Homo sapiens: one gene and its partners. The protein of the gene in region 1 interacts with the protein of each later gene in a biochemical or structural test. Each region holds a gene or a part of one and is shown in the gene's direction. Other genes may lie near its edges.

The links.
Region 2: the proteins of MDC1 (region 1) and RAD51 form a complex in vitro, tested with the Homo sapiens proteins (one study listed by BioGRID and IntAct).
Region 3: of the proteins of MDC1 (region 1) and CASP3, one has a biochemical effect on the other in vitro, tested with the Homo sapiens proteins (one study listed by BioGRID).
Region 4: the proteins of MDC1 (region 1) and USP13 form a complex in vitro, tested with the Homo sapiens proteins (one study listed by BioGRID).
Region 5: the proteins of MDC1 (region 1) and CHEK2 form a complex in vitro, tested with the Homo sapiens proteins (one study listed by BioGRID).
Region 6: the proteins of MDC1 (region 1) and NCL form a complex in vitro, tested with the Homo sapiens proteins (one study listed by BioGRID).
Region 7: the proteins of MDC1 (region 1) and CENPC interact in a test that uses a peptide from one of them, tested with the Homo sapiens proteins (one study listed by BioGRID).

The regions. Positions count from the first base shown.
Region 1 is NC_000006.12:30,703,099-30,707,327, reverse strand, and holds part of MDC1 (mediator of DNA damage checkpoint protein 1), read left to right. Parts: intron 1-1,229; coding exon 1,230-3,707; intron 3,708-3,790; coding exon 3,791-3,910; intron 3,911-4,041; coding exon 4,042-4,224; exon of another isoform or gene 4,225-4,229. UniProt on the Homo sapiens protein: Histone reader protein required for checkpoint-mediated cell cycle arrest in response to DNA damage within both the S phase and G2/M phases of the cell cycle.
Region 2 is NC_000015.10:40,697,699-40,701,935, forward strand, and holds part of RAD51 (DNA repair protein RAD51 homolog 1), read left to right. Parts: intron 1-1,058; coding exon of another isoform or gene 1,059-1,060; coding exon 1,061-1,147; intron 1,148-3,365; coding exon 3,366-3,503; intron 3,504-4,107; coding exon of another isoform or gene 4,108-4,228; intron 4,229-4,237.
Region 3 is NC_000004.12:184,626,858-184,630,220, reverse strand, and holds the end of CASP3 (caspase-3 isoform a preproprotein), read left to right. Parts: intron 1-719; coding exon 720-949; 3' UTR 950-2,525; downstream 2,526-3,363. UniProt on the Homo sapiens protein: Thiol protease that acts as a major effector caspase involved in the execution phase of apoptosis. Following cleavage and activation by initiator caspases (CASP8, CASP9 and/or CASP10), mediates execution of apoptosis by catalyzing cleavage of many proteins.
Region 4 is NC_000003.12:179,781,303-179,785,539, forward strand, and holds part of USP13 (ubiquitin carboxyl-terminal hydrolase 13), read left to right. Parts: intron 1-436; coding exon 437-521; intron 522-2,745; coding exon 2,746-2,839; 3' UTR 2,840-4,237. UniProt on the Homo sapiens protein: Deubiquitinase that mediates deubiquitination of target proteins such as BECN1, MITF, SKP2 and USP10 and is involved in various processes such as autophagy, endoplasmic reticulum-associated degradation (ERAD), cell cycle progression or DNA damage response.
Region 5 is NC_000022.11:28,739,021-28,743,017, reverse strand, and holds the start of CHEK2 (serine/threonine-protein kinase Chk2), read left to right. Parts: upstream 1-1,197; 5' UTR 1,198-1,249; intron 1,250-3,997. Other genes in the region: iron-sulfur cluster co-chaperone protein HscB isoform 1 precursor, read right to left, coding at 687-922. UniProt on the Homo sapiens protein: Serine/threonine-protein kinase which is required for checkpoint-mediated cell cycle arrest, activation of DNA repair and apoptosis in response to the presence of DNA double-strand breaks.
Region 6 is NC_000002.12:231,457,601-231,461,837, reverse strand, and holds part of NCL (nucleolin), read left to right. Parts: coding exon 1-298; intron 299-971; coding exon 972-1,169; intron 1,170-1,273; coding exon 1,274-1,360; intron 1,361-1,395; exon of another isoform or gene 1,396-1,470; intron 1,471-1,544; coding exon 1,545-1,686; intron 1,687-2,712; coding exon 2,713-2,837; intron 2,838-3,448; coding exon 3,449-3,572; intron 3,573-4,037; coding exon 4,038-4,195; intron 4,196-4,237. UniProt on the Homo sapiens protein: Nucleolin is the major nucleolar protein of growing eukaryotic cells. It is found associated with intranucleolar chromatin and pre-ribosomal particles. It induces chromatin decondensation by binding to histone H1.
Region 7 is NC_000004.12:67,538,499-67,542,735, reverse strand, and holds part of CENPC (centromere protein C), read left to right. Parts: intron 1-1,685; coding exon 1,686-1,756; intron 1,757-2,801; coding exon 2,802-2,896; intron 2,897-4,237. UniProt on the Homo sapiens protein: Component of the CENPA-NAC (nucleosome-associated) complex, a complex that plays a central role in assembly of kinetochore proteins, mitotic progression and chromosome segregation.

The DNA.
Region 1 (4,229 bases):
TGCTCTTTCACCTAGCCTCACTTTAATCTATTCCTTTCTCATTATTCAGTTTTCTTCCATTTTTGTCACGCCTTGATTGGCTTCTATTCCTTTATCCTCGGCACCCGTTGTTTTCCATATCTGTTTCCTAAGTTGTATCTCCTACCTGACTCAAAAGAAAGACCCTTCGTGTTTCTTCTTTCTTTGCCCCAGCCATCCTTTTCCTTACCATCATCCACGTGTGGAGAACACTATAGTAGCATTATGGAGACAGGTCTGTGGGAAAAAGGTAGCTTCCCAGGTAGATCCCAGTCTAATGGAGGAGAGATCATAGACAGAAAGGAAAATCCAGTGAGCATATTTTTTGTTTTTGTTCTTTTTTGAGACAGAGTCTGTCTCTGTCACCCAGGCTGGAGTGTGCAGTGGCGTGATCTCAGCTTACTGTAACCTCCGTCTCTTGGGTTCAAACAATTTTCCTGCCGCAGCCTCCCAAGTAGCTGGGACTACAGGCGCATGTCACCCGGCTAATTTTTGTGTATTTTTTTGTTTTTTTTGAGACAGTCTCACTCTGTCACCCAGGCTGGAGTGCAGTGGCGCGATCTTGGCTCACTGCAACCTCTGCCTCCCGGGTTCAAGCGACTCTCCTCCCTCAGCCTCCCAGGTAGCTGGGACTACTAGGCGCCTGCCAACACACCTAGCTAATTTTTTTTTTTTTTTTTTTTTTTTTTAGACAGAGTCTTGCTCTGTCCCCCAGGCTGGAGTGCAGTGGCACCATCTCGGCTCACTGCAAGCTCCGCCTCCCGAGTTCACGCCATTCTCCTGCCTCAGCCTTCCAAGTAGCTGGGACTACAGGCGCCCGCCACCACGCCCGGCTAATTTTTTGTATTTTTTAGTAGAGACGGGGTTTCACCGTGTTAGCCAGGATGGTCTCGGTTTCCTGACCTTGTGATCCACCCGCCTCGGCCTCCCAAAGTGCTGGGATTACAGGCATCAGCCACCATGCCTGGCCTTTTTTTTTGTATTTTTAGTAGAGACGGGGTTTCACTATGTTGGCCAGGCTGGTCTTGAACTCCTGACCTCGTGATCCGCCCGCCTCGGCCTCCCAAAGTGCTGGGATTATAGCCGTGAGCCACCACGCCCGGTGGAAATCTGGTAAGCCTATCTAACCATAAACAAGTATCAAGAACAGTATCCAAGTTCTATCTCTTTTCTCCACCTCCTCCCCCTCACTTGCTTCTGTTTCTCCCTAGGGCGATCAGGAATCTCCAGATGCTTGTCTGCCTCCTACAGTACCTGAAGCCCCAGCCCCACCCCAAAAGCCCCTTAACTCTCAGAGCCAGAAACATCTTGCACCTCCGCCCCTTCTTTCTCCCCTTTTACCTTCTATCAAGCCAACCGTTCGTAAGACCAGGCAAGATGGGAGTCAGGAAGCTCCAGAGGCTCCCTTGTCCTCAGAGCTGGAGCCTTTCCACCCAAAGCCTAAAATTAGAACTCGGAAGTCCTCCAGAATGACACCCTTTCCAGCTACCTCTGCTGCCCCTGAGCCCCACCCTTCCACCTCCACAGCCCAGCCAGTCACTCCCAAGCCCACATCTCAGGCCACTAGGAGCAGGACAAATAGGTCCTCTGTCAAGACCCCTGAACCAGTTGTCCCCACAGCCCCTGAGCTCCAGCCTTCCACCTCCACAGACCAGCCTGTCACCTCTGAGCCCACATCTCAGGTTACTAGGGGAAGAAAAAGTAGATCCTCTGTCAAGACCCCTGAAACAGTTGTGCCCACAGCCCTTGAGCTCCAGCCTTCCACCTCCACCGACCGACCTGTCACCTCTGAACCCACCTCTCAGGCTACTAGGGGAAGAAAAAATAGATCCTCTGTCAAGACCCCTGAACCAGTTGTCCCCACAGCCCCTGAGCTCCAGCCTTCCACCTCCACAGACCAGCCTGTCACTTCTGAGCCCACATATCAGGCTACTAGGGGAAGAAAAAATAGATCCTCTGTCAAGACCCCTGAACCAGTTGTGCCCACAGCCCCTGAGCTCCGGCCTTCCACCTCCACAGACCGACCTGTCACCCCCAAGCCCACATCTCGGACCACTAGGAGCAGGACAAATATGTCCTCTGTCAAGACCCCTGAAACAGTTGTCCCCACAGCCCCTGAGCTCCAGATTTCCACCTCCACAGACCAACCTGTCACCCCTAAGCCCACATCTCGGACCACTAGGAGCAGGACAAATATGTCCTCTGTGAAGAACCCTGAATCAACTGTCCCTATAGCCCCTGAGCTCCCACCTTCCACCTCCACAGAGCAGCCTGTCACCCCTGAGCCCACATCTCGGGCTACTAGGGGAAGAAAAAATAGATCCTCTGGCAAGACCCCTGAAACACTTGTCCCCACAGCCCCTAAGCTCGAGCCTTCCACTTCCACAGACCAACCTGTCACTCCTGAGCCCACATCTCAGGCCACCAGGGGCAGGACAAATAGGTCCTCTGTGAAGACCCCTGAAACAGTTGTCCCCACAGCCCCTGAGCTCCAGCCTTCCACCTCCACAGACCAGCCTGTTACCCCTGAGCCTACGTCTCAGGCTACTAGGGGAAGAACAGATAGATCCTCTGTCAAGACTCCTGAAACAGTTGTCCCCACAGCCCCTGAGCTACAGGCTTCCGCCTCCACAGACCAGCCTGTCACCTCTGAGCCCACATCTCGGACCACTAGGGGAAGAAAAAATCGGTCCTCTGTCAAGACCCCTGAAACAGTTGTGCCCGCAGCCCCTGAGCTCCAGCCTTCCACCTCCACAGACCAACCTGTCACCCCTGAGCCCACATCTCGGGCCACTAGGGGCAGGACAAATAGGTCCTCTGTCAAGACCCCTGAATCAATTGTCCCTATAGCCCCTGAGCTTCAGCCTTCCACCTCCAGAAACCAGCTTGTCACCCCTGAGCCCACATCTCGGGCCACTAGGTGCAGGACAAATAGGTCCTCTGTCAAGACCCCTGAGCCAGTTGTCCCCACAGCCCCTGAGCCCCATCCTACCACCTCCACAGACCAGCCTGTCACCCCCAAGCTCACATCTAGGGCCACTAGGAGAAAGACAAATAGGTCCTCTGTCAAGACTCCCAAACCAGTTGAACCAGCAGCCTCTGATCTTGAGCCTTTTACCCCCACAGACCAGTCCGTCACCCCTGAGGCCATAGCTCAGGGTGGTCAGAGCAAAACACTGAGGTCTTCCACAGTAAGAGCTATGCCGGTTCCTACCACCCCTGAATTCCAATCTCCTGTCACCACAGACCAGCCTATTTCCCCTGAGCCTATTACTCAACCCAGTTGCATCAAGAGGCAGAGAGCCGCTGGGAACCCTGGCTCCCTCGCAGCTCCCATTGACCATAAGCCTTGCTCTGCACCCTTGGAACCTAAATCCCAGGCCTCAAGGAACCAAAGATGGGGAGCAGTGAGAGCAGCTGAATCCCTTACAGCCATTCCTGAGCCTGCCTCTCCCCAGCTTCTTGAGACACCAATTCATGCCTCCCAGATCCAAAAGGTGGAACCAGCAGGTAGATCTAGGTTCACCCCGGAGCTCCAGCCTAAGGCCTCTCAAAGCCGCAAGAGGTCTTTAGCTACCATGGATTCACCACCACATCAAAAACAGCCCCAAAGAGGGGAAGTCTCCCAGAAGACAGTGATTATCAAGGAAGAGGAAGAAGATACTGCAGAGAAGCCAGGGAAGGAAGAGGTGAGGAGAGGGTTGGGACCACAAAGCTGGGAAAAATGACTTCAGGGCTCTGAAACTCCCACCAAGATTTTTCTCAATCTCAGGATGTCGTGACTCCAAAACCAGGCAAGAGAAAGAGAGACCAGGCAGAGGAGGAGCCCAACAGAATACCAAGCCGCAGCCTCCGACGGACCAAACTTAACCAAGAATCAACAGCCCCCAAAGTAAGAGACAAAGGCATGGGACTTTGTGGGAGACAGAGATGAGGGGAGGATGCAAGGAGACCTAGAGGATTGTAGAGATGGGTGCTGATGGCATGGGTTGCCGTAACCACCTCAGGTCAACCCTTCCACAGGTGCTCTTCACAGGAGTGGTGGATGCTCGGGGAGAGCGGGCTGTGCTGGCACTGGGGGGAAGTCTGGCTGGTTCAGCGGCAGAGGCTTCCCACCTGGTCACTGATCGCATCCGCCGGACAGTCAAGTTCCTGTGTGCCCTGGGGCGGGGAATCCCCATTCTGTCCCTGGACTGGCTGCATCAGGTGAG
Region 2 (4,237 bases), on another chromosome or scaffold:
TGCCACCACGCCCAGCTAATTTTTTGTATTTTTTAGTAGAGACAGGGTTTCACCATGTTAGCCAGGATGGTCTCGATCTCCTGACCTGGTGATCCACCCGCCTTGGCCTCCCAAAGTGCTGGGATTACAGGCGTGAGCCACTCCACCTGGCCCAAGATGATATTTCAATACATATATACATTGTATAATGAATGATCAAATCAGGGTAATCAGCATATCCATCAGTTCACTTAAACACTTGTCATTTCTCTTTGTGATGAGAACATTCAAAATACTCGCTTCTGGCTATTTTGAAGTATACATTACATTAGTGTTTACTGTAGTCACCCTACTGTGAAATAGAACCCTAGAACTTATTCCTCCTATCTAACTGAAACTTTGTGCCTGTTGACCAACCTCTCTCCTTCCTGCCGCCCCCTGCAACAGCTGCATTCTCCTCAGTCTCTGGTTACCACTGTTCTATTTGTTCCTTGTATGAGATGAACTTTTTTTTTTTTGTTTTTTTTTTTGAGACACAGTCTCACTCTGTCATGAGGCTGGAGTACAGTGGCACGATCTCGGCTCACTGCGATCTCTGTCTTCCGGGTTGAAGCCATTTACCTGCCTCAGCCTCCCGAGTAGCTGGGACTACAGGCGTGTGCCACCACACCCTGCTAATATTTGTATTTTTAGTAGGGACGGGGTTTCGCATGTTGGCCGGGATGGTCTTGATCTCCTGACCTGGTGATCTGCCCGCCTCGGCCTCCCAAAGTGCTGGGATCACAGGCATGAGCCACCGCGCCCCGCCAAGATCAACTTTTTTAGATTCTACATATGAGTGAGATCATGCAGTATTTGTCTGCAAACACATTTATAATGTATAATGGGGTATATAAAAATAAGTAAAACTTGGCCCCTACACTGAAGGAATATAAAGCAGGAGAACAGAGAGGCACAATAAGAGAATGGCCTTGGCTTTTCCTAAAGTCTTTTTGATACGACTAGCTAGATAGAAGATGGGGAGAGAGATGCACCTTATTTCTCTAGTGTTTATACTGATAAGCATTTGTATTTTTCAGTAATGGCAATGCAGATGCAGCTTGAAGCAAATGCAGATACTTCAGTGGAAGAAGAAAGCTTTGGCCCACAACCCATTTCACGGTTAGAGGTATGTGGTTAGTTGCTAATTTTGGAATTATATACTAGATTCTTCTACCTAGTGGAAGGTATTACAACCTTTACATAAAATATAGGTTTACTACCAAGGTCAAGACCCAAATTAGACTTTTCAGAAGTGTTGTCAATAATCCTGTGGAAAGGCTGCAGATCATTGCTAAATATGTCTGGCAGGGCCTCTTCCTTTGTCAACAATTCTCTTCCTACTTTATCATTTTTATTTCTGAGAGTTGGACTGTCAGAAACTAAGGCCTAGGATCCCATGGTGGAATCTCTGTGCTGTTTTTGTTTGTTTGTTTGTTTGTTTTTGATGGAGTTTCGCTCTTGTTGCCCAGGCTGGAGTGCAATGGCGTGATCTCGGCTCACCGCAACCTCTGCGTCCCAGGTTCAAGCGATTCTCCTGCCTCAGCCTCCCAAGTAGCTGGAATTACAGGCATGAGCCACCACACCCAGCTAATTTTATATTTTTAGTAGAGACAGGGTTTCTCCATGTTGGTCAGGCTAGTCTCGAACTCCTGACCTCAGGTGATCCACCCTCTTTGGCCTCCCAAAGTGCTGGGATTACAGGCATGGGCCACTGCGCCCAGCCTGTGCTGTTTTTTTGTTTGTTTTTTAAGAAATGGGTCTTAACTGTGTTGACCATGTTGATCTTGAACTCCTGGCCTCAAGCAGTCCACCTGCCTTGGCGTCCCAAACTGCTAGGATTACAGGCATGAGCCACCATGCCTGGCCAAAGCATCCTGTGCTATTTGCACTAAGTATGAAAGTGCTGTTCTGGGAATTATAGCGGCCTGGACCAGTTATGCAAGGAAGACAGGGAAGCACCTTCTCTCCATTAACCTAGATTTGTGCTGTCAGCTGTCATTGGCAGAGAGAAGGGTGTGGTGGTGTTATGGTATAAGAGACAAGCTCCAATTCAGGATTCTGCACAAGAACATTAAGCACCAGAGCTGAGGCCTTACACTATTTCTGCCCATTGTATAGAGACTGCCCTGTGAGTGCAGCTGATTTGGGCTAAGTAGGAGGAAAGCAGAGAAAGACTTGATTCTTCTGTCTCTTTTTTTCATATTTCCCATCTCTGACTAATCTTCAAGACTCTAGAAGTTAGGAGTGCAAAAGGCTAATAAAAAAAAAAGACTCTAGAAGTTACTTAAATGGATTTGTGATAAACATTTGAAAGTTCAGAGTCATAACTTCTGGTGCCATGAGCATCCTTATACTCAAACATGCATATTGCTTAAATATTAATAGCAGACATGGCTTATGTTGGCAAACTAATCTCTCCCCTCTTCTAAATTCTCCCAACCCCTGAATGCACCCACATTCACCTACTAACTCATGTTTTCCCAGAAGTCATGGTTTTGGTGGCTAATGAAACCAAAGCTGACTTGAATATAGGAAGAAAGAGGTGTCTTTGGGTGGTTTGTTTTGAGAAGAGGTATAAAAGTCCCTGACAAAAAGTAGTTTTCCTCACTGTTAATGTCAGTTGTTAGAGCAGAGCTTTCTGGTCATTGTTCAACAAAAAGTATTGACAGGCCAAGATAGTGCTCTTTATATTCTGAGCAGCCTTATCTATTTACCCTACCATAGTGTAAAAATACAGTTTTTTATGTGTGCTTGATGTGGAAAGTGTTGAGCAACACTGTCTTAAAGTGGTCTTGTAGGGCCCAAGGTCTCAGAGATCATTTAGGGTCACAAAAAAAGGTTGGGAGTTACTTTTTAATTCCAATTGCTAATAGGAGTTCTTTTTAATGTACATGGCTTAGTGCTAGTTTAAAATTATTGATTTTGATAATGAAAAGGTTGTTAATTTGTTATTAAGTACCTCATATATAGGGCTCATTTTTCAGCTTTTGCATATAATAACAGTAGGCTCTCTGTATCTCCGGATTCTGTATCAGCAAATTCAACAAACTACGTATCAAAAATTCAATCAACTACATATCAAAAAAAAGTATACAGGAGGATGTACATAGGTTATATGCAGGTAATACGCCATTTTATATAAGGGACTTGAGCATTGTTGGATTTTGTTATCTGCTGGGGGTCCTGGAACCAACTTCCCATCTCCCCCCGCCCCCCCAAGGATTTCAAGGGACAGTTGTATTACAAGTCTTCAAGCACCTCTGTGAAGTATGTAGGACACATAACATCTGTGTTAGATTAGAGAACTAAAGCTTAAATTTATCCATGGTTTTCTTCATTTGCAGCAGTGTGGCATAAATGCCAACGATGTGAAGAAATTGGAAGAAGCTGGATTCCATACTGTGGAGGCTGTTGCCTATGCGCCAAAGAAGGAGCTAATAAATATTAAGGGAATTAGTGAAGCCAAAGCTGATAAAATTCTGGTAAGTACTGCTTACTTAACCTAGGGAGGCATTAGTGGGAATAGTACAAAAGGGAATGTAGTGAAAGACTTCTTCCTTCTATCTCTTATTCTTCGGTCATCTCATTATCCTTTCCAGGGGTGACTGTTACCTGTTTCTTTTCTTCTTTTCTTTTCTTTTCTTTTTTTTTTCTTTCTTTTTTTTTTTTTTTGGAGACGGGTTCTCGCTCTGTCACACAGGGTGGAGTGCAGTGGTGCCATCTCAGCTCACTGCAACCTTCACCTCCCAAGCTCAAGCGATCCTCTCACCTCAGCCTCCCAAGTAGCTGGGACTACACTACAGGCACATGCCACCATGCCGGGGTAGTCTCGAACTCCTGAGCTCAGGCGATTCACCTACCTCAGCCTCCCAAAGTGCTGGATTATAGGTGTGAGCTACTGTGCCTGGCCTATTTATTTTTCTAGCTTCATATAGTTCTTTAACATACATACTTCCCCATGGTTACATTTTGTTTTATGAACCTATTTCTTCAGTGTTTATATAGTTACACAGTTTTATTGCCTTTACCCTTGAAGTTTTATGTAGTATAAAGCAGATTTTTTTTTTTTTTTTTTTTTTTTTTGAGACGGAGTCTCGCTCTGTTGCCAGGCTGGAGTGCAATAGCGTGATCTTGGTCTACTGCACCCTCCGCCTCTCAGGTTCAAGTGATTCTCCTGCCTCAGCCTCCCGAGTAGTTGGGACTACAGGTATGTGCC
Region 3 (3,363 bases), on another chromosome or scaffold:
ATCTAAATAAACATTTGTGGATTATACCACCATTTACTCACACAGCTAAGGGTGTCGGAGAGTTTGGAAACTTTAGGTAAATGTATTCTTAAGCAGTGTTGCATTTTAAAATATGCTCAATATGGTTTATCTTATCCTCTAGGCATCTTTCCAAGCAAAGTACCTCTAAGTTAAAAGCAATGGGTCTAATAGTTAACCTAGAAAAAAAAGTATGATAAATATACTATTTTCCCTTTTTGGACCAATACTTGGTAGTGTGTTTATTATACTTTATTCAGATGCTCTGTAGACAAGTAGGACACTCAAAGCAATTTGTTTCTTGGCTAAGTCAGTATTAAAATAAGGTGAAATCTGATTGGAACACTGTGCTACTTACAATGATCCTTTTTATACATCTTTACTTTTGCATCTTACCTTCTGCGTGTTTGCTCTTCTTGCCTATTGAAAGGGGAGTCCAGAAAGTAAAACTTTCAATAATTCAGTGTTCGTGAAGCTGGTCCCCGGCCAGCTTTGCTGAAAGCAGGGGGTGTACGCATAGCACACATTCGTCCTTCAGCATCATTTCTTCTGAAACCAAAGGTGTCTTTTTTTTTTTATTTGTATGACTAATAAGACTTATGTAAGTTTATGCTTATTTTTGCCTTTATGACTACATAATAATTTATAGAATCAACTAAAATCAGCTATCCATGGTATTTTGCTTGTATTTTGCCTTTTAGGTTATTATTCTTGGCGAAATTCAAAGGATGGCTCCTGGTTCATCCAGTCGCTTTGTGCCATGCTGAAACAGTATGCCGACAAGCTTGAATTTATGCACATTCTTACCCGGGTTAACCGAAAGGTGGCAACAGAATTTGAGTCCTTTTCCTTTGACGCTACTTTTCATGCAAAGAAACAGATTCCATGTATTGTTTCCATGCTCACAAAAGAACTCTATTTTTATCACTAAAGAAATGGTTGGTTGGTGGTTTTTTTTAGTTTGTATGCCAAGTGAGAAGATGGTATATTTGGTACTGTATTTCCCTCTCATTTTGACCTACTCTCATGCTGCAGAGGGTACTTTAAGACATACTCCTTCCATCAAATAGAACCACTATGAAGCTACCTCAAACTTCCAGTCAGGTAGTTGCAATTGAATTAAATTAGGAATAAATAAAAATGGATACTGGTGCAGTCATTATGAGAGGCAATGATTGTTAATTTACAGCTTTCATGATTAGCAAGTTACAGTGATGCTGTGCTATGAATTTTCAAGTAATTGTGAAAAAGTTAAACATTGAAGTAATGAATTTTTATGATATTCCCCCCACTTAAGACTGTGTATTCTAGTTTTGTCAAACTGTAGAAATGATGATGTGGAAGAACTTAGGCATCTGTGGGCATGGTCAAAGGCTCAAACCTTTATTTTAGAATTGATATACACGGATGACTTAACTGCATTTTTAGACCATTTATCTGGGATTATGGTTTTGTGATGTTTGTCCTGAACACTTTTGTTGTAAAAAAATAATAATAATGTTTAATATTGAGAAAGAAACTAATATTTTATGTGAGAGAAAGTGTGAGCAAACTAACTTGACTTTTAAGGCTAAAACTTAACATTCATAGAGGGGTGGAGTTTTAACTGTAAGGTGCTACAATGCCCCTGGATCTACCAGCATAAATATCTTCTGATTTGTCCCTATGCATATCAGTTGAGCTTCATATACCAGCAATATATCTGAAGAGCTATTATATAAAAACCCCAAACTGTTGATTATTAGCCAGGTAATGTGAATAAATTCTATAGGAACATATGAAAATACAACTTAAATAATAAACAGTGGAATATAAGGAAAGCAATAAATGAATGGGCTGAGCTGCCTGTAACTTGAGAGTAGATGGTTTGAGCCTGAGCAGAGACATGACTCAGCCTGTTCCATGAAGGCAGAGCCATGGACCACGCAGGAAGGGCCTACAGCCCATTTCTCCATACGCACTGGTATGTGTGGATGATGCTGCCAGGGCGCCATCGCCAAGTAAGAAAGTGAAGCAAATCAGAAACTTGTGAAGTGGAAATGTTCTAAAGGTGGTGAGGCAATAAAAATCATAGTACTCTTTGTAGCAAAATTCTTAAGTATGTTATTTTCTGTTGAAGTTTACAATCAAAGGAAAATAGTAATGTTTTATACTGTTTACTGAAAGAAAAAGACCTATGAGCACATAGGACTCTAGACGGCATCCAGCCGGAGGCCAGAGCTGAGCCCTCAGCCCGGGAGGCAGGCTCCAGGCCTCAGCAGGTGCGGAGCCGTCACTGCACCAAGTCTCACTGGCTGTCAGTATGACATTTCACGGGAGATTTCTTGTTGCTCAAAAAATGAGCTCGCATTTGTCAATGACAGTTTCTTTTTTCTTACTAGACCTGTAACTTTTGTAAATACACATAGCATGTAATGGTATCTTAAAGTGTGTTTCTATGTGACAATTTTGTACAAATTTGTTATTTTCCATTTTTATTTCAAAATATACATTCAAACTTAAAATTACCAATGTCTTTGAGTTTTTTGTTGCTGTTGTTTTTGATGTTGTGCCACTAATTGGAAGTTAAAATGTTTTTAATCAGAAGCTTGATTTGGAAGAGTCAAAGAGGAAGCACCAGAACCCTAGCCTAGTTTTTTGAGGTGGTGGCAGTTAGATCAGGGCAGACAGATCGCTTATGCTTCCCAAGTCCTCGCAGAAGTTCCTGACCCTGAAATGACCACAATGCCAGGAAGATACTTTGTTTGCATAGATCTCAGGCCTTAAATATGACCATATGTGTGAATTTGAAACTTTTTCCACAAGATAAGTGTCTAATGGGAAGAACAACCTAAGAGGATATACAACAAGCCGTTGATGTTTACTGATGGCCTCCTCTGGGCGCTGGGATTTTGACAGAGGAATTTGCTGTCTTTTTACTTCATATGCTTAGAAAAGGAATATAGGAAAGTGGGGTTGTGGGTGGTTTTAAATTTCTTCCAATATTTCTGTAATGAAAATATATTACTTTTAAATCAGAAACAAAATAAATTGTCCTAACTAGGAAAAGGAGACTTCTGTTTCTGAGGAGTAGAGAGTAGCATAAATGAGTTCTTTAAGGCCATATGAAAGCGGTGGTTCTATAGTGTTGAGGAAAATCTGGCTTATTCTAGTCTCCCTGTTAAGTAAAGAGGTTTCAGATACAAAGGAAAAGACCAGCAACCCAATAGGAAAATGAGCCAAGGACATGAACAAACAGTTCACAGAAAAAAGAAAACCCAAATGTCCCTTAAATTCAATAAACAGCTTGATCTGCATCATAATAAGAGAAATGCACATTAAAGTATCTGTCGTCTATCAGACCGG
Region 4 (4,237 bases), on another chromosome or scaffold:
TCATTTAAGTTTTATACAACCCTGCGAAGTGGGTGGATTTTTTTTTTTAATCCCCACAAAGAAACAGGCTCAGAAAGAGGAAACAACTTGTCCACCCTCGTGCTATTTGGAAGTGATAGAGCCAGGACTACCCTTTTAGATCCATAAGCTTGCCACCAGACCGGGCTGTGGGATTTTTTAAATCCCTTTCCACATTTGAATTTAACATCAGCTGTGCTTTGATAATTTATGTCCTATTTTTTGATCACAAATTTGCAGGTTGAGTTTAGTGTCCCTCTGAGTATGTGTGTGTTGTCAACATAGCAAGGTAAATAGACCTTGTCTTTCAAATCTAAACAGTTGCTGGATTATACTATGGTTGGTTTTAAATTCTAACCAGAAGTGCTCTTCATTCTGGAAATGCTGCCTTGTAACTGAGTTGTTTCCTCTTTCACAGCATATGAGCTATTTGCATTCATCAGTCACATGGGAACATCCACAATGAGTGGTCATTACATTTGCCATATCAAAAAGGAAGGAAGGTGAGTCATTTTTAGAAGGTAAATGTTAGCTGTGATTTATTGAGTACCTACTATATGCCAGGCACTCTCCTAGGTACATTGTATGTTATCTTATTTGGTTCTCACATTGGTCTTGTAAAGGGTATACTGTTAACGCCCTTTTGCACATCAAGACACCGAGACTCAGGGAGGCTGAATAGCTTGACCTTAGCTAGTAAGTAGCTGTGTGAGAGCTGATATTCAAAGCCACTTTCAACTATCATACCAAGGTGACCTCCCAAAATAAAGATGCATCCTGCAGCAGAATGTATGCTGTAATTGGAACCTCCCTAGGATTGCCATATTTAGCCAACAAAAGGAAACAAGACAGGAAAAACCAGGATGCCCTATTAAATTTGAATTTCAGATAAATAATGAATAATTTTTTAGTATAAATAAATTTCAAATATTCTATGTCCCAAATATTATATGGGGCATGCTTCTACTGAAATTTCTTATTGCTTACCTGATACTCAGATGTAACTGGGTAACCTGTGTTTTATCTGGCAGCTCTAAACCTTCAGTGCTTTGCCTTACTACAGCCTTGCAGTTGGCTTCTCAGCCTTCTTAAGTAGAATTGTTAAGTGTGTAGTGAACCGGAAATGAGACAGTTGTGGAATGAAAGGCTGCTGCTTTCTTCAGAACCTTCTCCCTGGGCTGGATCCCTACAGGACCTACTGGTGCCCTTCCTGCAACTCCAAACTGAGTAGCCTGTGGGTTGGCACTTCTGCTTGAGGGCAGTGCTCAGGCCATGTGGATGCTGGAGAAATGCCTGAGGGTGGCCTCTTGCTCCATGGCTCCCACTGCAGGAGTGGCCATTTCCCACCTGGACTCCATTGTGTTCTTCTGTGGTGTGTCTTTTTAGTTTTGTCTTCTTAACTTGGTAAAATAGTTGAGCACAGGAATTTATCTCTTTTTTTTGAGATGGAGTTTCACTCTTATTGCCCAGGCTGGAGTGCAATGGCACAATCTCAGCTCATTACAACCTCCGCCTCCCAAATTCAAGCAATTCTCCTGCCTCAGTCTCCCAAGTAGCTGGGATTACAGGCATGTGCTATCATGACTGGCTAGTTTTGTATTTTTAGTAGAGATGGGGTTTCACTATGTTGGTCAGGCTGGTCCCAAACTCCTGACCTCAAGTGATCCACCCGCCTTGGCCTCCCAAAGTGCTGAGATTACAGGTGTGAGTCACCGCACCCGGCTGGGACTTAATCTTTGTGGTGAATTGTTTTTATTACAAACACGATAGCGCTTTAAAAAACACTTTATGGAATGAAGTCAAAGAAAATAAAATAAAAATGCTTTTTAAAAGAAAAATAGCTTAATTATAATTTTAAAAGCAATAAAATTCATAGTAAATAATTTATAAATATAAAAATATACAAAGAATATGTACCCTGGAAGCCTAACAATAACCATTGTCTACATTTTGATATACTTTTCTTTGTTTTATTGTCTCACTGGAAGAAAGTATATATATGTCTATATGCACACATACTACATATAAATAAACACACGTATTTACAACTTAACTAAAAGCTTAAAGTATGTGCAGAGTGCATACAATTTTTTAACCAGTAATTTCCCATTTCATATTATATCATGGTTATTTTCTCACTTTGCCAAATATTCTTTGAAGAAATTTTAATAGTTCTATAATAGTTCACTGCATGGATTTTTTTAAAATTCTGGTTTTAAGCTAGTTTTATACTAAGACTGAAATAAGCATTGTTGTACATAATTCTTTGACTCAATTTCTCAGGCTATCTATGGATTTCTATAAAGGGAGTTATGGGATCAAAGGTTAAAATGTTTGGAGGTTCCTGATACATTTTAGTAACTACTTTTTGATGGAGCTTAAGAATCAAAAAGCAGTTGTAGCTGGGTATGATGGCATGTGCCTGTGTTCCCAGCTACTCCAGAGGCTGAAGCGAGAGGATCCCTTGAGCCCAGGAGTTCGAAGCTTCAGATTGTGCTACCTTACTCCAGCCTGGGGAATAGAATGAGGCCTTGTCTCTTAAAAAAAAAAAAAAAAAGCAGTTGTGATTCCCTACCAGCATTCTGTCCCTTTTTATACAACGAACTTGAGTATAGTACCTTAAAACATCATGGTTAAGTGTTGTGCGCCATATGATTTAGTGACTTCTTTGTGTAAAGTTTCCTGGAACTGACTTAAATCCATCAAATGCTTCTGTCTTATTTTCAGATGGGTGATTTACAATGACCACAAAGTTTGTGCCTCAGAAAGGCCCCCTAAAGACCTGGGCTACATGTACTTTTACCGCAGGATACCAAGCTAAACCTCAAATATAAAAATTGGCGAAAAGAAGCCATACGCCTTTTTAATTTGCCAAAAAAAAAAAGAAGAAGAAGAAGTTGAAACAACTAGACATGAAGGAATATATGGGGTATTTATCGTTTATTTAAAGAGCACGATCAGTTGACACCTTCTGAAATAGAACTGAGAAGAAATTTCTATTAGTGATGATACACTATTATATTGTAGATAGTTTTTATAAATGTTCAAAAAGATGATGATATTTAAAAACAAAAAAAGTATTCATATTGCTGGTGGAGGATCTGCCATCAGCACATCAAAAATGGGGATGTGCCCCCAGCCCTCTATTTTGCTTTGGGGGTCAGTGATAGTGGCCTCTGGAGAAACCAAATAATGTGGCCAGTGGTGTGGCCTTACCCACAACAAATGAAAAGCCCACTTGTGTTTCATATAGAAAATCAGCAGTTGGGTGGGGCTTTATTTGTGACATAATTTTTTTCATGACATACAATAATTTCTGATGTATCCATGTAGATATTATGCTCTGTCCATAATAGAGCCTCTGCAATGAAAGATATTTTTAATTTGTCACATTAAAATTCATAATACGATTGTGTGAATGTGTGTGAGACTGACTGAGAGTGTGAGACTTTTACTAGAAAAGTGAGTCCACTAGAAAATCTGTGACAAGTTGGTTTTTAAAGTCTGAACAGTTGATATTAAGCATATCTGAAAAAAGCAAGTAAATATTTTAACAAAACTATGACTCAGGAACCTTCGAGAAGATTAGTTCCCCACTTAGATTTTTAAGGAGTAAAAAGGGCTGAGTTATGCCTTTAAGTGCTGTCAAGAATTCACTTGGGTTTGGGACATTTGCTGGTGTAATGCTAGATGCCCACAGCAGCATAATATTGTACTTTGTCAAAGGTAGGTAAATTCTCTGTTTCTCAGCAGCCCTTTCCCCAAAAGGTATGGTGTTTATTTTTAGTAAAAATAGCTAATCTCTTTTTACCATCTCACATGATAACTCTTTGGAGTCATGTCAAGTGCCCCAAATTTGTCTGTGATTTTCCCATCTCTGAGCTCTTTATCTGCCTCCGTTTCCTTGTTTTTCTGGGGCCAGAGTCTCATCTCTGCCTTTTTTTGGTGTATCACCTTCTGACTTGCCTTCATTGCTTGTCTGATGTGACCAACAGTGTGATCTTGGACACACTAAGGATTTTAGATGCAAAGAAACTTTATACAACATTATGAAAGACTATCCTTTCCATTTTGGTTATTTCAGCATTTTAGTTGCAACCTGGGATTAGATTAGAGTTTCCAACGTGATGAAAAGTGGAATGATAGCATTCTATAATTTCCATAATTTTCCTACTGGTCCGTACCAAATTCTAGAGTCTCTGGAGTTGCTATTTCAGAG
Region 5 (3,997 bases), on another chromosome or scaffold:
CCTTCATCCCTGTCTCTCCCGGTTTATTTTAATTCAGCCCCTTTCACATTCTACTCCCAGAGTCTGTCCTATTTCCTTACCAGTTCAGCTCTATCCACACTGCCCCGTCTCTCCAAGAACCTCAGTCTCAGGGGGAAAAACCATTTATTGGACCCTCTCCCTCCAATTCTCACTTTTCCCTCAGGCCTCGCCCACAATATTAAGCTTTTCATGCTTTACTCCCTAATCTCGGATCACACTTCTGCAGTCCTTTCTTAAATACATCAACCCAACTTTAAACCTTACTCACCCTATTCATTCAAGTCTTCCAGTCTCCCAGGCCCTGCCCCTCAAGTACCCTTTCCTCAAGTTCCGCCCCTCGACTTCTCCTTCCCTTTCCCGTAGGTACCGCCCCTCAAATCTCCCTCCCCTCTAGCCTCGGCCCCCCTATTTCCTCTAACTTCAGCGCCCGCCCCTCCAGTCCCGTTCGTCTCCCTTCTCCACACCTCAACGTTGCTTCCCTCAGTCCCCGCCTCTCAATTTCCTCCTGAGAAATCAAGACACTTCTCTCACGCCTGCTCTCTAGACCTCCGCCCCCCCATCAGTCCCGCCTTCTCTTCCGCCAGCCAGATCCGTCCTCCCCTCTCGCAGGCCAGACCTCGACGTGTCTCTCGCCCGGGCCCGTTTCCCGAAACCGTCGCTCGTACCAGTCCATAAGGCTGAAGTAGTCTCGAGTGGGGTCAGGTGCCTGCAGCGCTCGGCACTGTGGGCAGAAGAACCTGTCCTCCCGCCCGGGGCCCCATGGGCCGCCGCAGTTCCAACAGCGGGGATAATTGCTTCCCGCCTGCGACGCAGCATCGCAGCTTAGCGGTCTCCTTCTGGGAACCCCTGTCGGCCAAAACCCCCACACCCGGAGCAAAGCCCCGGCTCTCCCCCGCCACATCTGGCCGGCGGCCTATCTAGCCGTGGTCACTCGTGGGGAAAAGCAAAGAGAGCGTCTAACCAGACTAATGTTGCTGATTGGCTGGGGAGTCGAGGGGGCGGGATCACCCGAGGGGAACCCGGGTTCTAAGTTCCGCTCTCCCTTCTAAACTACAACTCCCAGGAGGCATTGAGGCGGCGCCTGACGGCCACATCTGCTGCTCCTCATTGGTCCGGCGGCAGGGGAGGGGGTTTTGATTGGCTGAGGGTGGAGTTTGTATCTGCAGGTTTAGCGCCACTCTGCTGGCTGAGGCTGCGGAGAGTGTGCGGCTCCAGGTGGGCTCACGCGGTGAGTCATATGGGGAACTTCTGTTGGGTGTTTGGTGGTTCGAATCCCATCTTAAGCGTTTTGTGCGAACGGAGTCTCCTGAGCTTCGCTTTGTCTGTAGTTTTGAGCTGAAGGGGGAGTGTGTGGGCGACTCTCTTCCTTTTCAGTAGATCATCCTCGAGGTGAAGTTCACTTCCCGTATTACTTGCAAGCTGAAACAGGCCTGAACATACAGGATAAGAAGAACAGCGTTGTATTCTTCAATATCAGAGCGAAGTGACTTCGTAAAAATTCTATAGATGTTAGAAATCGTTGCCATTCTTTAGGTTCAATCTATAAAATACTTATAGAGAAGCCAGTCTTAGCTACTGGGCGCTGCAGGGACTGGAAACGCACTGAGCTGTGTAGGAGGATGTTCTGCGTGTCCCTAAATAAGTCCCTAAGTAAATGTATGGGATAGGGTGGCCAGAAGTGGGTAGGAGGGCATCAGTCCTCCTTCGGACTTAGGTTTTCTGCTTGAAAAAAATATTGTGTTTCACTTGAAAGACCTCTGGAATTTTTAAAAAAAATTATTTATTTTTGATATAAAGTATACATATATGATTACCATCTGTACCTTTTTTTTTTTTTTTTTTTTTTTTGAGACGGAGTCTCTCTCTGTTGCCAGGCTGGAGTGCAGTGGCGCGATCTGGGCTCACTGCAACTTCTGCCTCCTGGGTTCAAGCGATTCTCCTGCCTCAGCCTCCTAAGTATCTGGGATTATAGGTACCCGCCACCATGCCCGGCTAGTATTTTTAGTAGAGACGAGGTTTCACCATGTTGGCCAGGCTGATCCCGAACTCCTGACCTCAGGTGATCCACCTGCCTTGGCCTCCCAAAGTGCTGGGATTACAGGTGTGAGCCACCGCGCCCGGCCTATTTTCAATTTTTTGAGGAATCACAATACTCTTCTCTATAGTGGCTATACTAATTTGCATTCCCACCAGTGGTGTATGTGAACAGTGCAAGGTCAGACATAACCAGGTCCATGCACATTTGTGTCTTTCCACAAGATCAGACTTATTGATGTTTTATTTTAATTGTAAAAGCCACGAGCTATATGGAGTTCCCAAGGAAGCAATTTTCCGTAGTACTCCCTGTTTACTTGGTGGTCAGAGCCATGGGCACACAGGCTCAAGCCATTCCACAAGTCAGTCAGTATTGTAAACCGTACACAATAGTATATTTATTTAATATGTAAATGTTATAGATTAAAAATCTTACATTAAAGTAACATTTAACATTCGGAGAAAAGGGGATAGGGAAAGTGGTTATCAAACCAGTCCAAGGAGAGCAATGTGGACAAAGAGAGTGTTTTGGCTTTATCTGGGGTGTCAGTGTCTTGTAAGGAAGAGTTTTTGATGCGGGCAGAGCCTTTGATGGCGGATACTGGGTGTTAATCATGAGTGACAGCAAGATGGTGTCTGTTAGGACAGCCATTTTGACCTAATAAAGTCCTGCTCTTATGACCAAAGAATTTTCTTGTGAGGACTAATAACAAAAGCGTGTACATATTTATATCCTTATCTGGTTTAGTACAGTGTTTTTTTTGAGACAGAGTCTCGCTTTGTCACCAGGCTGGAGTGCAGTGGTGCGATCTCGGCTCACTGCAACCTCCGACTCCCTGGTTCAAGCGATTCGCCTGCCTCAGCCTCCCGAGTAGCTGGGACTACAGGCACGCGCCACCATGCCCAGCTAAGTTTCGTATTTTTAGTAGAGTTGGGGTTTCACCATGTCGACCAGGATGGTCTCCATCTCCTGACCTTGTGATCCGCCCGCCTTGGCCTCCCAAAGTGCTGAGATTACAGGCGTGAGCCACTGTACATGGCCAGTACAGTCTTTATTAATTAGACAAACATCTGGTCCCTGTTGGCATAATGCCTTTTAAAATATAAGATAGAGCCTTTTTCTAAGATAAAATTACTTATGTCAAGAGCACTCTATACAGTTCCCCTTTCTGCACATTCTTTCCAGCATCTGTTTTGCCTATCTTTTATACAAACCATTTTAACTTGGGTGAGATGGTATCTCATTGTGGGTTTTTTTGTTTGTTTGTTTGTTTGAGACAGAGTCTTACTCTGTCGCCCAGGCTGGAATGCAGTGGCGCGATTTTGGCTCACTGCCTCCTCTGCCTCCCGGGTTCAAGAGATTCTCCTGCCTCAGCCTCCCAAGTAGCTGGGATTATAGACGCCTGCCACCATGCCCAGCTAATTTTCATATTTTTAGTGGAGACAGGTTTCACCATGTTGGCCAGGCTGGTCTCAAACTCCTGACCCCAAGTGATCTGCCCGCCTCCGCCTCCCAAAGTGCTGGGATTACAGGCATGAGCCACTGCACCCGGGCCTCACTGTAGTTTTGATTTATATTTCTCCAGTGATCAGTGATGTTGAGCATTTTTTTAATATACCTGTTGGCCATTTGTATGTCTTCTTTCGAGAAATGTCTTTTCGGATCTTTTGCCCATTTCTTTTTTTTGAGACAGAATCTCACTCTGTCACCTAGCCTCGAGTGCAGTGGTGCGATCTCGGCTCACTGCAACCTCCGTCTCCGTCTCCTGAGTTCAAGTGATTCTCGTGTCTCAGCCTACCAAGTAGCTGGGATTACAGGCACGGGCCACCATGCCCAGCTAATTTTTTGTATTTTTAGTAGAGATGTGGTTTTGCCATGTTGACCAGGCTGGTCTTGAACTCCTGACCTCAGATGATTCACCCACCTTGGCCTCCCAAAGTG
Region 6 (4,237 bases), on another chromosome or scaffold:
ACACCTGGCAAGAAGGGAGCCACACCAGGCAAAGCATTGGTAGCAACTCCTGGTAAGAAGGGTGCTGCCATCCCAGCCAAGGGGGCAAAGAATGGCAAGAATGCCAAGAAGGAAGACAGTGATGAAGAGGAGGATGATGACAGTGAGGAGGATGAGGAGGATGACGAGGACGAGGATGAGGATGAAGATGAAATTGAACCAGCAGCGATGAAAGCAGCAGCTGCTGCCCCTGCCTCAGAGGATGAGGACGATGAGGATGACGAAGATGATGAGGATGACGATGACGATGAGGAAGATGGTAAGGAGTTGTCTTGGTAGTTACTGGGCTTCTGATTACAAGGTATCTTGAGATTCTGGGATCAACATATTCCTTCCACGACAACCTGGAGATGAGATTAGAATCCTTGTGGGAATTCTCTGGGTTGTTGTGGTGTGCTAGACTTAATTACCCATGAATGATTTTTGTGCCTCTTGAGAAAATTTCAATAGCACATTCTATTAGTGTTTTTTATAATGTAGGATTTTGTTTCTAAGTGATTTTTTTTTTTTTTAAATTTTTTTGAGATGGAGCTTTTGCTGTTTCCCAGGCTGGAGTGCAATGGCGCGCTATCTCGGCTCACTGCAGCCTCCATCTCCTGGGTTCAAGCAGTTCTGCCTCAGCCTCCCGAGTAGCTGGGATTACAGGTGCCCACCACCACACCCTACTAATTTTTGTATTTTTAGTAGAGACGACATTTCACCATGTTGGCCAGGCTGGTCTCGAACTTTTGACCTCAGGTGATCCACCCACCTTGGTCTCCCAAAGTGCTAGGATTACAGGCGTGAGCCACTGCGCCCGGCCCCAAGTGATCTATTCTTGCCATGACTGTTAACTAAACATGGTGACAGGATTGCATTTTCTTTACATTAGATTTGAAAACCGATGTTGGTTTTGGGAGATTGCTGCAATTTTTAGGTGACTTCTCTTTCAGACTCTGAAGAAGAAGCTATGGAGACTACACCAGCCAAAGGAAAGAAAGCTGCAAAAGTTGTTCCTGTGAAAGCCAAGAACGTGGCTGAGGATGAAGATGAAGAAGAGGATGATGAGGACGAGGATGACGACGACGACGAAGATGATGAAGATGATGATGATGAAGATGATGAGGAGGAGGAAGAAGAGGAGGAGGAAGGTACTTAAATTAGATTCTGACATACGACATGAGTTATGTTTAAAGGAGGCACTTAAGTGTTTGTGGCTACTGATGTGTGATACATTGTTTGACATCTTGTCCAGAGCCTGTCAAAGAAGCACCTGGAAAACGAAAGAAGGAAATGGCCAAACAGAAAGCAGCTCCTGAAGCCAAGAAACAGAAAGTGGAAGGTAACTTGCAGAATTAGGGGATATGGGGGAGATAAACAGCACAAATGATGAATAACAAAGGGACTTAATACTGAAACCTGATGTTACATTGTAGTGTGCTGATGTGCTGTGTATAGAAATTTTGCTTTGGAAACTAACTTTTTACCACACTACAAGTAGACTGAGTTGAGCTTTTTTTGTGCAGGCACAGAACCGACTACGGCTTTCAATCTCTTTGTTGGAAACCTAAACTTTAACAAATCTGCTCCTGAATTAAAAACTGGTATCAGCGATGTTTTTGCTAAAAATGATCTTGCTGTTGTGGATGTCAGAATTGGTATGACTAGGTAAGTGCTTCACTGCACGTTACATACACGTGGGTCTGTTAATGCTTTTCCTTCCCCTGTTAGCACAGTTACTTTAGCCTGCTACTGTTAAACATGAATACTGTAAACATCTTCAAGGATTAGCATTAGTGAACTAAGTTAGAATTAAACTGTAGATCCCCTAAGTTGCAATTTCCATAATCAGTCGTAACTTGGTATAGCACAGAATAATTTTTAGTAAGTTTTTTTGTTGTTTTTGTTATGTATTGAGACGGACGCTGGCTTTTGCTCAGGCTGGAGTACAGTGGCGCAATCTTGGCTCACTGCAACCTCTGCCTCCCGGGTTCAAGCGATTCTCCTGCCTAAGCCTCCCAAGTAGCTGGGATTACGGGTGCACTTCACCATGCCTGGCTAATTTTTGTATTTTTAGTTGAGATGGCATTTCACCATGTTGGTCAGGCTGGTTTTGAACTCCTGACCTCAAGTGATCCACCCACCTCGGCCTCTCGAAGTGCTGGGATTACAGGCGTGAGCCACCCTGCCAGTAAGTTTTAATAATTTGGTGTTAGGTGGGAGAATCGCTTGAACCTGGGAGGCAGAGGTTGCAGTGAGCCAAGTTCGCGCCACTGTACTCCAGCCTGGGCAACAGATTGAGACACCGTCTCAATTTAAAATAATGTTTATTTTCTTGGAAGTACCTGAAACTATTAGACCTGTCTAGTCATCATAGTGAATACTTTTATCCAGACAGGATTCTCCTGTATTAGTGCTTATAGGTGTTCTTTTGTCAGCTGCTACTGTGAATTCTTATAAGCAATTTAGCTCCATGATGAAGACCTCAAACGTGAATGTGCATGTCATATCTTCATGCTGAGACCTTGTTCTGTAGCTGCAGTTTGCAGAGCCTTGACTTTGTTTTGCTAATACTAGGGGTGCTTTTTAAAATGTGATCTTTGTTTGCACCATCACATTTGTCTAGAATACATATTGTGGATTTTGATTTGTGTTTTCACCTGTTGTAATTTTGCCCTCCTCTCCACCTTGAAGGAAATTTGGTTATGTGGATTTTGAATCTGCTGAAGACCTGGAGAAAGCGTTGGAACTCACTGGTTTGAAAGTCTTTGGCAATGAAATTAAACTAGAGAAACCAAAAGGAAAAGACAGTAAGAAAGGTATGTAAGGCTTTATGAGATTATGCAATGAACTCAGGAGCTAGACTGCTAGGGAAAATGCTTTGTAACCCATTTCCCTTGGTTTCCTCTTATTTTTTTAAATCATTTTTTTCCTTTGGTTTCCTCTTAATGTGGGAATTAAATGAGCTACAGTGTTTACAAGAGTACTTGGCACTGCTTGTCAGTGTTATAGTGTAAATTCCTGAGTTAGGCAAGCAAGAGCACTTTTATACAGAACAAGAATTATTAGATGCACCTAAATTAACGTAAAGGGATCTTTCTTCACTGAAACTAGATTAGGTCCCTAATTACTCCCTATATACAGTTGTAATGTTTTGAATTGGTACATTCACTTTTTTTGTTATGCGCGTCTACTCTAGGTTGAACTCCAGTGTACCTAACAGAGAGTTTGACATCAGCTGTGACAACATGGAGGGACCACTTGTGTGTTGACACTGCTATATCTCCATATTTAGCACCGAGCCTTGTACATTATAGGATCTCAAATTATTTGTTGAATAGAGCTATGTGTGTTTTTCCCCTCTTTTTGTTGTTGCCCCCCACCTTTGGTTTTTCAGGCCACAGAGCTCATTTTTGTTTTTTTAATCTAGAGCGAGATGCGAGAACACTTTTGGCTAAAAATCTCCCTTACAAAGTCACTCAGGATGAATTGAAAGAAGTGTTTGAAGATGCTGCGGAGATCAGATTAGTCAGCAAGGATGGGAAAAGTAAAGGGTATGTTCTGTCTATTGAAATGTAAGGGTTTTATTAACATTAATGCACTTTCCTGCTTTATAAAAGAAATATTGGTTTGATTTCCTTAGGCGTGTAATCTTGGACAGTTTAACCTGTAAGTTTGTGCCTCAGTAACCCATCTGTACCATGGGGATAATGTACTCATAGGGTGATTTTAAAAGACAAGCTAATACTTACAAAGAAGCAAGAAATGTGCCTATCTTACAATAAATACTTTGTAAGTAGTAGCAGTTCTTTCAGTGAGGTGAGGTTACTATGAAAAAATTCCAAGTATTTGTAAAACTAGTGGGAAGTAAGAGGGAAGCTCGAGTTTTGATTGAAAAGTGGCATAAAACTAAGGGCATTTATTGTACTCAGATCTGAAGCAAGTTCTGTGTTGCTGAGGTAAAAGCATTTGTGTTAATATGGTTTTAAAAACCATGAGTTCTTCTCCCTCCATTGCAGGATTGCTTATATTGAATTTAAGACAGAAGCTGATGCAGAGAAAACCTTTGAAGAAAAGCAGGGAACAGAGATCGATGGGCGATCTATTTCCCTGTACTATACTGGAGAGAAAGGTCAAAATCAAGACTATAGAGGTGGAAAGAATAGCACTTGGAGTGGTAAGAAATTAGGCTTGTTACAAGGTTTCAGAATTGGTGGAG
Region 7 (4,237 bases), on another chromosome or scaffold:
CACTAATACTACTTAGGTTTACAAACTGAGGTAGGCCATTTGACCATTTTGGGTTTCAGTTTGCCTATCTGCAAAATGAGGGCATAGGATTCAGCTAGGGGTTTTTAACTAGATTTGCACATCAGAATTACCTCCATCACCCTAGGAAATCTAATTAAATTGGTTTGTGGGAAGTGACCAATTAAGTGTATTTCTGCAAAGCTCCAAAAGTAACTTTACACATCTATTTGGATGATGATTATTGGACTGGATGATTTCTGAGATCTTTCAGTTATAAAACTTTATGATGGATGACCTGATAATGCACTGTGGCTCACAGTTTTTAATTACTGCATATATAGTACTTTTCCAGCTCTCAATAATAGGAATGTTGTAGATCAGGGATCAGTAAACTCTGGCTGATAGGCCAGCCAAATGTTTTGTCACAGGTTTTATTTCAATTTTATTGGAACACAGCCATGCCTCTTTGTTTACATACTGTCTGTGGTTGCTTTTGGGCTAGAATGGGAGAGTCGACTGGTTGTGACAGAGACTATGGTTTACAAGCCTAAAATATTTACCATCTGGCCCTTTAAGCAAAAGTTTGTCCACTCTGTTAGAGATGCATGTCAATTTTATACTGATTGAAATCCAGATGTTCTTCAACAGGTAAATGGTTAAACACTGTGGTACACACATAGCATGGAACATTACTTGACTCTAAAAAGCAATGAAATATTGGTACATTCAACTTGGATTTATTTCCATAGAATTGTGTTGAGTGAAAAAAGCCAAGGCAAGAGGATACATGTTGTATGATTCTATTTACATATAATTGTTTCCACATGACAGAGTTTTAGAAATGGAGGACAGATTAGTGGTTGCCAGAGGTTAGGAATGAGAGGAGGCAGGAAGGAGATGAGAGAAAGGTGGTTATGATTACAAAAGGACAATAGAGGATCTTTGTGATGATGGAACTATTCAGTATCTTGACTCTGGTTGTTTTATCTGCACCTACAGATGTGATACATTTTGTATATATACACACAAACATGAGTATGTTCAGAAATGAGTACATGTAGAACTGGAGAAATCACAATAGCATTGGTAGATTGTATCAATATCAGTATCCTGATTGTGATAATATGCTATAGTTTTGCAAAATATTAGCACTGAGGAGAACTAGGTAAAGTGAACAAGGGGTCTGTATTATGTTGTATAGCTGGCTGTGAATCTACAAGCTCAATATAATTTTTAATTAAAATTTATACTGATTCATAAACTGTTAAGATTAATCAATGATACTGAATTAGAAATGCATTTGAGAATTTATAGGGAGGAATATGTTACTTGGAGATGTGACTGTAAAGTCTGTTAAAGAAGCATTTCAGGACTGATTGGATTCATTCAAAAAAATTTGTGTTTTTGAGATACAGCAGTAATCTAAAACAGCTTTAGACATGGCTGTTCAACTAAGAAATATTAATTGTTAAGGTAGATTATGATATACTAATTCTTATTAGGAAGGAAAGAGTTCACTTGAGGGAATGTATAGACCCTCAAGTACTTGTTTTGTCTTCAAATAGTAAAGATATTTTACATATTAAGTAAATTTATATTTTATAATGAGATGTGGAATTTTCAAAGAGATGGTAATATAAAGAAATATCTTCTGAAAATGACAGGCTGTATTTTTCCTTTATTAGGGCACGTGACATTAACACAGAGCAAGGCCAGAATGTTCTGGAAATCTTACAAGACTGTTTTGAAGAAAAAAGTAAGGCTTCATTTCAAGATGGAATTTAAGGGTTAGATGGATGAAAATATGAATTTGTCATGGTAATTAATATCAAATGCAGCAAATATGTTCTAGGGTTTAAATATATGGAAAATATTTTCCCTGGTATTTTGAGTTCATATGCAATCCTTTGTGTACCTTCTGGTATACTTAGGATAATACTGACAAAAAATAATAATTTGACAATAATTTGTCATCCCGTTTAGTTCACATTAAATTACTGTAATCTGGAAGTCCATACATAATTATCATACACAAGAAAAAGTATTTTATTATTTATTTATTTATTGAGACATAGTCCTGCGGTGTCACCCAAGCTGTAGTACAGTGGTGCTATCTCAACTCACTGCAACCTTTGCCTCCCAGGTTCAAGTGATTCTTGTGCCTCAGCCTTCCAAGTAGCTGGGATTACAGGTGTGTGCCACCACGCCTGGCTAATTTTTGTATTTTTTAGTAGAGACCAGGTTTCACCATGTTGGCTAGTCTGGTCTCGAACTCCTGCCCTCCAGTGATCTGCCCTCTTCAGCCTCCCAAAGTGTTGGGATTACAGGCATAAGCCACTGCATCTAGCCAGAAAAAATATATAATGAAAATAGATGTGTAGAATTCTTGGAATCGCTGGAGAATTTGAGATAATCTTTGGTGATTTACATATCTGTTTAAGGAAGTCATAAATTACAGCAAAAACTTTTCCAAGTGCTGATTAGCATCAGCAGGTATTGGAATAAGAGAATAAGCCAGCCAAAGAAATAGGGGCAGATGATAGAAAAGAATGTTTTCTATACAAGCTCTGAAAGAAGAGCTGGCATATATTGATACTTCAGGTGTTTTGTTTGCTTTTCTCATTTCCTGATGCTTCTCAGGAACATTTGAATATTAAATTGAGGTCTCTACTTGATTTAAGCTAATTGTGGTCAGTGAGTCAACAGATGGTTCTTCACATGTCATATACAGCTACTTTTAATTGTGACTAATAGATATTACACTATATCTTGTTTTTGAAAATTTCATACTTTTGTTTTAGGTCTTGCCAATGATTTTAGTACAAATTCTACAAAATCAGTGCCTAATTCAACACGCAAAATAAAAGACACTTGTATTCAGTCACCAAGCAAAGAGGTAAGTGATAAAGAAGAGCTGGTATAGGTTTAATATTTTAATGAATGAAGGTATACACAATATACTCATGTATATTTTAGTTGTTTGTAAGTCTTATTCTTGAAAGGGAATTCTATATTCCCATTGACTTTCTATAAAATTTGGAGGTATTTTGTGAAAAGTTTTATTTGATATTTTCTGTTGGAATTGGGATTATGGGAATTAGAATTATCAAATTATAATAAACATTTTTCACTTCTCCTAAAATAATACTCAAATTAGGTTTTTAGGAAAATGGGCAGTGATCAAAGTTGCTAATCAGGTTGGCAGGGTTGGTTATATTCTAATAAATGAAGGCACTTCATTGTTATACGGGGAAATCAATCTTCTGTTGATTATATATTTTAATTGCTGTTAGTTTGATCAGAAATAAAGTATTGGTTGACTTAACTATACTAAGTAGCAGACTTTCAAATAAAGTATTTGAAGCTAATCTAAGGCAAATTATTCAAAAGCACAATACTAATTAGAAAAATCATATAGTGCTAGAAGTAACACTTACTAGAAAACTGTAAAAGGCAATCAACATATTAAACATATGTAGCCTTTTGGTTCCAAGCAATGCAGACAAAACCATTTCTTTCAGAATTGAGAGGCCTTCTGAAACTTGATAAATTACAATGGTTTTTGAAAGTTAAAGCAACTTTAGGTTTTCTGGGATAAACTTGACTTGGTCATAAAGTATTAACTTTTTTTGATTAGGTTTGCCTAATATTGAAGATGTTTGCATCTATGTTTATGAATAATATTGTCTTTTTTTGAAAAATGTTCTTACAGGGCTTTGGTATCAAGGTTATGCTAGAGGTTCCTCTTCTAGGTAGAATGCAGTAAGTCACAGAAGGCTAACACTCCTGCTAAAGCAGCTATTTTAAAAAATGGAAACAAATTTTAGATATATGAGAAGCTGTGGAAACAATAAAGACTAGCAAAATATAGTCTGTGGCTAATTTTCTTCCCTTCTGAGGCAAAATTCTTCTCTACTGTGTCCCGTTACTTATGGAGGTTTTCCACTCTGGCTGGTAGATTATTCTAGGTCCTTTGTAACTGGGAGGATATTCCCCCTCAAGGCTTCGGGTGGTTCTTTCTCTGGTTTTCTTACAACGCATTCTCTGATCAATATTTGATTGAATGCTTGAGAGAGATCTGCACATTCTGCAGTTTTCTCTATGTAACCGTCTCCTGTCCAGTACTTTATCCTGCAAATTCTAACCACTTTGGTCTTCCTGAATCCTCAGCTTTGGCTCCTCAACTGAGGATTTCCCCTGTGTGTCACATCTGGAAATGGGTGATCAGAGGGTTCAC